2 separate regions of the Homo sapiens genome follow, and region 2 is linked to region 1. The links come from fine-mapping of genetic effects on gene expression. A gene starts in region 1. The other region holds a variant in brackets. All regions are shown on one strand. Distances are from middle to middle. Region 1 holds the start of TRABD2A (TraB domain containing 2A). Region 2 overlaps TRABD2A (TraB domain containing 2A).

The links.
Region 2: its variant is fine-mapped to the expression of TRABD2A in whole blood (TOPMed, PIP above 0.99). The same link has a PIP of 0.9 or more in blood mononuclear cells.

Annotation. Positions count from the first base shown.
Region 1 is chr2:84,878,766-84,883,968 of GRCh38, forward strand. It overlaps TRABD2A (TraB domain containing 2A), which reads right to left and starts at 2,319. Exons shown (of 7, transcript NM_001277053.2): 1 at 2,167-2,319. The coding sequence starts at 2,274. RefSeq lists enhancers at 1,561-2,063, 2,064-2,564 and a silencer at 2,294-2,423.
Region 2 is chr2:84,825,029-84,830,231 of GRCh38, forward strand. The region is part of intron 5 of TRABD2A (TraB domain containing 2A); the gene reads right to left. Among named protein-coding and RNA genes, the nearest start is that of TRABD2A, 53 kb to the right of the region's middle. The variant A/G (reference allele first, on the strand shown) is at 3,050.

The sequences.
Region 1 (5,203 bases):
GGACTTCCACTCTAGAATCTCAAGACCCCAACCCACTGAGGAACCCAACCACAATGCCCTTACAGCATGTGGGTCAGACATACAGCATGTGTGCCGCTGATTGGCCTTCCCAATTCCGCAGGGGGTAAGACAGAGTTTGCCCACAGAATAGAACAGCAATTCTCAAAGTATGGTCCAGGGACCTGTGGGTGTCCCCAAGAGCCTTTCAGGGAGTCTATAAGGTCAAAACTGTTTTTATAAAACTAAGATATTTTCCTTTCACCCTCATTTTCTCACAAGGTACTGTAGAATTTTCTGGAGGCTACATGTGTGTGATGAGGTCACTGCTCTGATGGCTAATGGAATGTGTGCTATGTTGTGTTTTACTACTATCTCCATTAATTCACATAAAGTAAAAGTCTTTGAGGTTTTCAATACTTTTTTTTTTTTTTTTTTGGATATAGGGTCTCGCTCTTTCACCCAAGCTGGAGTGCAGTGGCACAATCACACCTCACTGGCCTCCACTCCCAGGCTCAAGGTTTCCTTCCACCTCAGTCTCTGGAGTAGCTGGGACTGCAGGCACATGTCCCCACGCTGGTAATTTTTTTTATTTTTTTGTAGAGACAAGGGTCTCGCCATGTTGGCCAGGCTGGTCTGCAACTCCTGGGCTCAAGTGATCCACCGCCTTGGCCTCCCAAAGTGCTGGGATTACAGGAGTGAGCTACCATGCCGGGCTTCTTTGATAATTTTTTGTAACGTAAAGGAGTCCTGAGACCAAAAGGTAGGACGATGGAATAAAGGACTCATAAAGACAGATTCTAAAGGAGAGAGATCTTATCCAGACTCACTCGTCATAATTACCAGTCGGTAATAGGTTTTGCAGAAGTGAAAGGCAATGTGCTTTCTTGTGAGGAGATGGACTCCTGCCTTGTCTAACAAGCATGAAGCGGCCACACCGCAACAGAGTTTGAAACCATGCCTGGTGCAGACTCCCCTCTCCAGCTGCCGCGCCTCCTGCCTTGGTAGAGGGCCGTCCGCAGCCCCGCGACGCCTTACAGAGGCGAACACCGTGCGTCTTCCCAGCCCGGAGCTCCAGGATCGGCTCTATTTGGCCGTCCTCTGCTTTGCTGCAGTTGGGATGAGGAATAAAATTGCGAATGGCCAGGGGTGGAGGCAGACCGGGGAGCTGCGCAGGTGTCATCAAAGGTGGGCCTCTAAATTCCAGCCCCCACTCCCTCAACCCACCCCCAACCCCCCCCACCCCCGCGTCGCGGGCGCACCAGAAGGATAAGCCTGGCATGGCCCTCTCCAGAGCCAGGGACGCACAGATATCAAACCCACCGGAACAAATGCGCGAAATTCAACCTATGCCGCACTCAGAAGAGAGGGACTCGAGAACCACAGAAAATTCTGAGTGTAGGAAAACTGATCAGAGAAGGAAATATTCATCTCGAAAGAGGTCCAGCCTCGGAGACGCAAGACCTGTCCGCTATAGAGCTGTGTTGACTCGGGCAGGTCACTGAGCCTCCCTTGCCTGGGTTTCCCTCACCCACAAAACGTTGATGCGAACATCTAAAGCGCCCGGCTGGACACGCAAGGCTCGGACAGTGGTCACTCCGCGAACGCACTCTGTGACCTGGAGCACACAGGTCCCCCGCTGAGTGTCAGTTTCCCAGATCGGTAAAAACAAGGGAAATGGCTTCAACTCCCTAAAGTCCCTTCTAACTCAGGCACTGAACATATGAAGGTTAAGCCAAGCAGCTTCAGGGCGCTGTTAATATTTTGATAAGAGCAGGTGAAATTAAACTCTTAAGGAAGAGAGGGAAGAAGAAACTTCAAATAAATGTGCCCAAGTTCCTGGTCCGGTACTCCCTGGCGGATCCGTCCCCCGAAAGCTCGCGAAAATGGCTGGCGAGACCCCAGAGGCTCTCTCGGACGCCCTTGGGCTGGCGGAGGGCAAAGGCCAGGGCACTGAGTCGCTTGGAGCCTGCGGGCTGCGCCCCCGCGGGAAAGGGGAACCCGAGGGCACGGAGAGGAGAGCGAGCAAGGAGCGCCGCGGTGCTAGGTGAAAGCCCAGCCGCGGAAGTCGGCTCGGGGTCCGAAAGCGCTGCTTCGCGGGGTTCGGAGGGAAACCATCCCAAGGAGGTGCAGAGAGGCCGGCTCTCCAGCACCCGACGCGCGCCTTACTTGGGGCTTGAGCTCGCAGTTGGCGGTGCCGGGCGCCCCGCGCCGCGAAGCTGCGCCCGTGGGCAGGAGGCAGAGGGTCTGCAGCAGGAACCAGCTCCAGGGACTCATCCTCCTCAAGGCGGCTCCGAGGCCCGGAACGCGGAGGGAAGGAGTAGGGCAGAGGTGGCCGCCCGCCCTGGCTAGCCGGGGCCGCGGGGCGCCTCCGGGCGGGGCTGGGGTGAGCCCGGCAGCAGCGGCCACGTGGGGCCGGGCCTCGACCTCCCTCCCCCCACCCCACCCCCGCAGGTCAGCCCCGCGCCTAGGCGGCAGCGGAGTCCCGAACCGCGTTTCTCCCGCCCAAACCCTGCCGGGGCCGCCGCCCACCTCGTGTGACCGCAAGAGGGGTAAAGTGAAGTTCCAGCGCTGTCCTAAATTCAACCTAAAATCGCATTGGTTCCTGCGTTTACGTCTGTGCTTATGCTGCCGATTGTGAGGGGAGGGTGCCTCTTGATTGAAAGAGGCAGACAAAATAAACAAATGAAAGGCTATCTATAAAGGAAAGTTCATTTAAACAAAGGAAATCTCACGGAAGTTTTGAATGTAAAAGAGAGAGGGGAATGGTCAGTGTGTGCATCCACTGAAAATCCAGGACCACAAAAGCTGGCACTCCATTAAGAGCCCTCTTAATGGATTTTTAGGAATAATATTAAGGATGTTAACACCGAACTCAGAGGATTGCCGCAAGGATTAAAAGAGGAAATTTATGAGAAACACCTTGATTGGCACACATAGCAAGCCTGCAAACTGCAGTCGCTCCCTTTCGGCTCCAAAACCCCACTGAGGATTTTTCACAGCATTGGTCCATCAGGAAGAAAAAAAAATTATGAAAGCAAGTAGCTGTGCCCCGCCTGCCGCACCTCCTACCCATGCCTGAGCGCACTTTACCACCACCTTTTAAAGTCCAGACGTCTGCGCCATTAACTTCGGAGTGGTGTTCGCAGGAGCATTTGTCGCAGTGGTCTTTAATTGCTTTAAGTCGCTGTCCATTTTGAGAATCTGATAACTGGACGATCTCCCAGGGAAAAAGAAAAGGGGGGGGGCAGATTTGCATACAATGCGGGGAGAGGTTTTCTGAAGCCCATTTCCAACTTTCCCGTAAAGAACCCCTGGCTTTGAAGAGCCAAGTCTTTCGAGATTTAACTCCACCAACATTTAGAGTTCAGATGTTTTTGTAAAATCGCTTTTTTCTAAGTTTGAGTGGGGATTTGCTTTCTGGAATTGACTGTCTCCTGTCTTCAGATGACTGCCCCGTGTCAGCCCGGCGGCAATCGTTAGTCTCCGGGCCAACCCAGGACGATGCTTTTTGGCGTTTTCAGGCACCAGCGCTGCCACCTGCTGGCAAAAACTTTCTCTTTCGGTTGTGAGGGGGAAAAGCAAAAAGCATCAAGAACGTAAGTTGCCCTGAGCTAAGATCGAACCACTGCACTCCAGCCTGGGCCACAAAGTGAGACCCTGTCTCTTATTTAAAATAAAACAAAACAAAACAAAACAAAAAACTCAAAAGGATGTAATTACCTATTATTTCATGTTATCTCTCCCACTCCAAATGAATCAATCCGTGTGGCCACAGAGAAGCCCGCCCAGCTTCTCTCTGAGCTGGGCTTCTCTCTGGCCACACAAAACATGGCTGAATTTGTTTATTTTCTCCTGTTGTTTGTCTCTCTTTTATTTCGTTGGTTTCTGCTCTTATCTTTGTTATTTCCTTCTGTTTGTTTACTTTTGGGTTTACTTTGCTTTTTTTCTGGATTCTTAAGGTGGTACCTTAAGTCATTGACTTTAAGTCTTCTTGCTTTTGTAATATAAGCATTTAAAGTTATAAATTTCCCTATAAGCACTGCTTTAGCTACATCACCCAAATTTTGAAAAACTGTATTTCATTATCTTTCATTATCTACTTTCCCTGGTGATTTTCTTCTTTGCCCGTGGATTATTTAGAAGTAGGTTGATTGATTTCCAAACTATGGAATTGTCCTAAATATTAGGTTGGTGCAAAAGTAATTGTGGTTTTTGCAATATCAACAGATTTATAATCCAATTCTGTTGTAAACAGAAAACATACTCTGTATGATTTTGATTATTTTGAATTTATTGGGACTTGTTTTATGGCTCAGCATATGGTCAGATACTGAGTATGAAATATCATATCCATATCCAAAGTACCTAGATAATTTTGTTTGATTCTGACAGTTTTTAAATGAAGTGTTTTTTTTGTTGCTGTTGTTGCTTTGTTTCGTTTTGTTTTTTCTCTTAGCCAGACCCATCATCAAGTAGGATTTATTCTGTAAGACACTCAGTGTCCGAATATTCTATAGAATCACATCTACTCTACTTACATGTTTCCACAGACATTCCTAAGTTCACTATCATCCCACAGTGCTGACCCAGACCTGGTGACAGGCTGACATGGCCTGGTCCTCACTTGCCTTATACAGACATCTGGGTTGCAGGCCTTTCTGCCTTTCCCTTCCTGGTTAGGAAGGAGATGTTAAATGTACCCATGTCCTCCTCTCTGCTTATCTGCCGAGTTTCTGTATCAAGTTTAGCTCCTTAACTTCAGCTTTGTTACTGGATCATACCTCTGGCTGCCCATTGCCAGAGCCCTGAATTGCTTCTGAACCTTCCCTGGTCCTTTCTCTTTCCCCTTTCATGTATGGTTGATATCCTTGGCAACCCTCCCATATTAGTCCATTTTGTGCTGCTATAGAAGAATACCACAGACTGGGTCATTTATAAAGAACAGAAATGTATTTCCTTACAGTTCTGGAGGCTGGAAAATCTGAGATCAAGGTGCCTAGCATCTGGCAAGGGCCTCCTTACTGCATCATCCCACTGTGGAAGGTGAGAGCACAAGAGAGTGAGAAAGAGAGAAAAATCGAGATTGAGAGCTAAAGTCATCCTCAAGCCATTCATGAGGTCATGAGGGTAAAGCCCTCCCATGATGTCCCAGCTCCCAACACTGTTGCATTAGGGATTAAGTTTCCAACATATGCTTTTGGAG
Region 2 (5,203 bases), 54 kb before region 1:
TTGTCAAGGGTTTGGTGAAGGGGATGGGGGAGCAGAAAGAGAAGAATTCTACTAGATGTCAATCCCATTGGTCTCCTGATGTAGGTAGGTAGTGAGAGTCCTGAAACTCACATCTGCCTGAGGAAGGGGAGCAGTGGATGCGCCATGTCTAGGGCTTTCCTCGTCCAATGATGTAGGTGCCACTGACCAGCACATGTAAGAACTCAATTACTTAGCCTTGAGGAACCATCTACCTTACCAGAGTGGGTCCCAGTTCTGAGCCACGACATGGCAGAACCTGAGAAGTCAGTTAGTATTAATGGCCGTGTGTGAGGAAGGGAGGAGGTATACAAGAAGGAAAGCAAAAAAGGGAAAGACTTATATTGGGCAAAAAAGTTAAAAGAAGGGAATTCCTAAAATGGCAAAGGATTAAAAAATGCCCCTACTCTGAACCTGAGACTAAGGACCCCAGAAACATAAATTCATAGCTAGAAGGTTCCTGGAGGACAGGGCTTAATATATTATTACTGTCTCCTGAGCTCAGCGCAATGCCTGGTACATAACTGTGAAGCCACTTAAATGAACCCTTTCATTGTTACAACAAAGAAACTAGAGCCCAGAAAGGGAATGTGCCCCCATCATGGCTCTCTAGGATTCAGGTGGCCTCCTAGGGCAGGGGTCCCCAGCCCCCAAGCCATGGACTAGCACTAGTCTGTGGCCTGTTAGGAACTGGGCCACACAGCAGGATGTGAGTGGCAGGCAAGCAACCATATTACCACCTGAGCTCCACATCCTCTCAGATTAGCAGGGACATCAGATTCTCATAGGATCGCAAACCCTGTTGTGAATTGTGTGTGCCAGGGATCTCGGTTGCACACTCCTTATGAGAATCTAACTAATACCTGATGATATGAGGTGGAACAGTTTCATCCCAAAACCATCCCCCCCTCCCCGATCCATGGAAAAATTTTCTTCTACAAAATTAGTCCCTGGTGCCAAAAACGTTGAGGGCCACTGTCTTAGAGGGTTCAAGAGCAGATGATCAGGTAGCTCCATGCCCATCAAGCCCTCTGCCCATGGCCGAAACTATGTCTTGGCCTCCATATGACCCAAACAGGTCCTGGTACATGGTAGGCACTCAAGAAAAGTCTGTTGCTTTGATTTAGTGAGGAACATGGTCTCTAACTCACTAGGGCTGTGTTCTATGGTTTGAAACAGTGGATCCTCACAGTGAGACAAATCATAGCTTTGTTTCTGTTCAACTCACAACAAACAAAGACCTCACCCCAGAAACTCCAGGTAGCCAAGGCCAGGGCTTAAGAGCCAAGTTAATAGCCCTGGGTGGGGGTTGGAGAGTAGGGATCAGGAAGGAATTAGCTTTACTCTTCCTGGTTTTTATCTCCCTTATATTTGTGAGTTAAGGAGTCCTGAGGAATCATAACACCTACTTTACAATTAAGGAAACTGAAGACCAGGGGGAGGAAACTGACCTGCACAAGGTTCCAAGAAGGATTCTATGCCATCTTTTGTTTTGTTTTGTTTTGAGATGGAGTCTTGCTCTGTCCCCCAGGATGGAGTGCAGTGGCACAATCTTGGCTCACTGCAACCTCCGCCTCCCAGGTTTAAGAAATTCTCTGCCTCAGCCTCCCAAATAGCTGGGATTACAGGCACATGCCACCACGCCCAGCTAGTTTTTTTGTATTTTTAGTAGAGACGAGGTTTCACCATCTTGGCCAGGCTGGTCTTGAGCTCCTGACCCCATGATCCACCCACCTTGGCCTCCCAAAGTGCTGGGATTATAGGCGTGAGCCACCGTGCCTGGCCAATTCTTTGCCATTTTTAAGTAACATTCATTGTTGAGATTTTTTTCAGGTCATAAAGCTAATCCATTCTCATTGTAGAAAATATAGAGAGTATAAATTAGTGTCACTGTAATCTCCAGGGAGATCCTACAGACAAATGCTCACATGGGCTCAGACAGGGGTTTAAGGGTCCCTAGGTCAATAGAGGTGGCTGCTCTTCTGTCTCAAATAGAAAATCCCAGCTGCTGAACACACCCAATCCATCATAGAGCCTCTGGGCTGGATCCCATCACAGGCTCAAGATCTAGATTACCATGTTTTGACCCACCTGGATTCTCACAGTTTAGCTAAACTTCTACCCACAAAAGCTAAGCCCATGGTCATTTTGGCTACAATATAGGGCTACCCCCTTGTGCTGATAGCTTATTTGCCCCCTACCTGCATTTCACGCAGCCTCCTCACTTCATGGAAGTCTCCAAGAAAGAAACACACTGGTTGACAAGGAAAAGACCCCAGGCTTGGAGCCTTAGACAAGATAATTGACCTTTCTGAGCCTCTGCCCCTTGCATAAAATTAACCTATCCTACCTCATTGCTGTGAGGATTAAAACAGCCCAAGCACCATGTTTCACACAGTGCTGAGCACACAGTAGATCCTTACTTCAAGTGCATCCCCCTTTCTCCCAGTCTTCTGAGAATGAATGAAGCTGTATAAACCCTAGCAGGGCTGACCAGAACCTTAGAGCACCCCGCTGTGTAACCAAATGGACATCTGCCAGATCCCCAAAGATGTCCATGACCTAGCCCCTGGAAGCTGTGAACACATTACCTTACACGGTAAAAGGAACTTTGCAGGTGTATTAAGTTAAGGACCTTAAGTTGAGGAGAGTAGCCCAGGTTATCCAGGGGTGCCCAATCCAATCACACGGGCCCTTAAAAGCAGAGAACCCGTCTGTGGTCAGAGGGGGATATGACTATGGAAGAATGGTTATAGAGATGCAATATTGCTGGCTTTGAAGATGGAAGGCTCCACAAGTCAAGGAATGTGGGCAGCCTCTAGAAGCTGGGAAGAAAACAAATTATCTAGACCCTCCAGAAGGGAATGCAGCCCTGCCCACACCTTAGTTTCAGCCAGTGAGACCTGTGTCAGACTTCTGATCTCCAGAACTATACAATAATGAATCTGTGTTGTTCTAAGCTATTGAGTTTGTGATAATTTGTTATAGCAGCAATAGAAAACTAACATAGTATCCATTACCCCAGGGGGAG[A/G]AGGGAGGAACTGGCTAAGCCCTCTGCAGATTAGCCCAACAGGAACCCCATCTCTTTCTCTTCTCTGTTCTAAGAACAGCAACCTCACCTTCAGGAGCATTTCCTGTGTTTTCCAGCCTGCTGACAGGTGGAGAGTGGCAGCTGCTAGTTGCCCTCCCCACACACCAACATGCACACCCATCTCTGTCTCCCCAATACTGGCCTACCCCAAGACTAAGGGAGCTGGCAGGGCCTTAAGTAAGCTAAATCACCACTTAACAGCCCTCATGTCCCCAGCCACACCAGCCTGCCCTGGATTCAAGTTCCACATGACCAGAATCATCCCTTAAGGACTACCAGATGGCTGCCGAGGAGGGGAAGAAGGAAACAGGTATCCCTCCACTGCCCTGGTCCTCCTTGCCAGCCCCTCTTTGTGGGCATTCTCCCCAACCCACTTCCCTGGGCCCTTAGCCTCCCGGGACCCTGTCCCTTCTTCCTGAACAGGAGCTCCTTTGGAGACCTCATCCTCCCTCATGGCTTCACCTGGGACCACTGTATGCACGTTCACCCCTAAAACCTCTCAGGTCCCCCACTGGCTGAATAAATGAATGCATGTGAGCAGTACCAGCAATGATATTAACACATAATCAATCCTATTTGAGATCCCATCATGTGCCAGATGCCAGGATAGGTACTCCTGGAAATCCAATTTTGAAAATTAGATCCTTGTCCGGAAGGCTCTAGAAGAAAGAGAGAGCTCTTGCACAAACCATAGGTTCCTTGGGGTCATGCACAGGATGAACCCAGGCTGGAGCAATGGAGGAAGATGTGGCAATTGTGCTGGATCTCACAGATTCTGATAGAGAGAACTGGGGGTAGTGTGGGTAGGGAAAGGATCTCTGGCAGAGGAAACTGCACGAACAAAGACAGAGGCTAGGAAGTAAAAGGTGGGAGAAGAAAGGGTAGAAAGAAAAGGTTTGGGAGGTGGAGGGGTCTGTGCTATTTCCTGGTCCTGGTTAATAGTGTGGCCTTTCACAGTTTCTTCGTTAGTAAATGAGAAGGAACACTTCCCTTGCGGGCTGGTTTTGAGAATTAACAGAGAGCCCATATAAACCTGGCTACCACCTGATGATCCACCAATAAATGCTCTTTTTCTCCCCGGGGAAGTGAGAACACTTGTTCTCAGCCTTCACTGGGCATCGGAATCTCCTAGAGAGCTTCTAAAAAGACGGATTCCTGACCTTCCTTTCCCCAAGGGCAGGTGTCAGGGTTAGAGGCAGAATTAGGGAGCCTGGGAACAACCAGCAACACACACACACACACACACACACACACACACACACCACACACACCACACATACCACACACACTACACACACACAAAACACACGTACCACACACACCACACATACCACAATGCACACCCCACACATACACAACTCACACATCAGACATGCACCACACATACCCCACACACATACACAATACACACACCACACATACCATACACACCACACGTACCACACTGTACACACACAACACACGTACCACACACACCACAACACAACGCAAACCCCACACGTACACAACACACACATCAGACATGCAGCACACATACCCCACACACATACACACAACACACACACCAAACATGCACCACACACATGCACAGTACCCACACATGCACACACCAGCCATGTTCCACACACATCCACACTACACCACACACACCCCACATACCACACACACCCCTCACACACAGGTACCAAACAACACACATACCAGACATGCACCACACACACACCATACACATGCACACTACACACACACACATACACCCCACACATATTCCACACTAGATACACACCACACAAACCCTACACACAAACATCACACACAACACACCCCTCACACACACCACACACCAGACACACACAAACACAAACATTACATACTCCACACACATTACACCACACACACGTACACACTCCCCAGGTAGGGCCCTCTCCAGCACCCTAAGGACAGTGCGTTGAACCCCAGGCCAGTCAGCCCAGCGGGAAGAGCTGAGAAGGGACCAGAGGCCAGTGAGGGAGGAAAGACCCACAGTCCTGCAGGGCGCAGAGAACCCCTAAGGGCTGGCTCCTCCAGACCTGCAGGAGAACAGGAAGGAGAGAG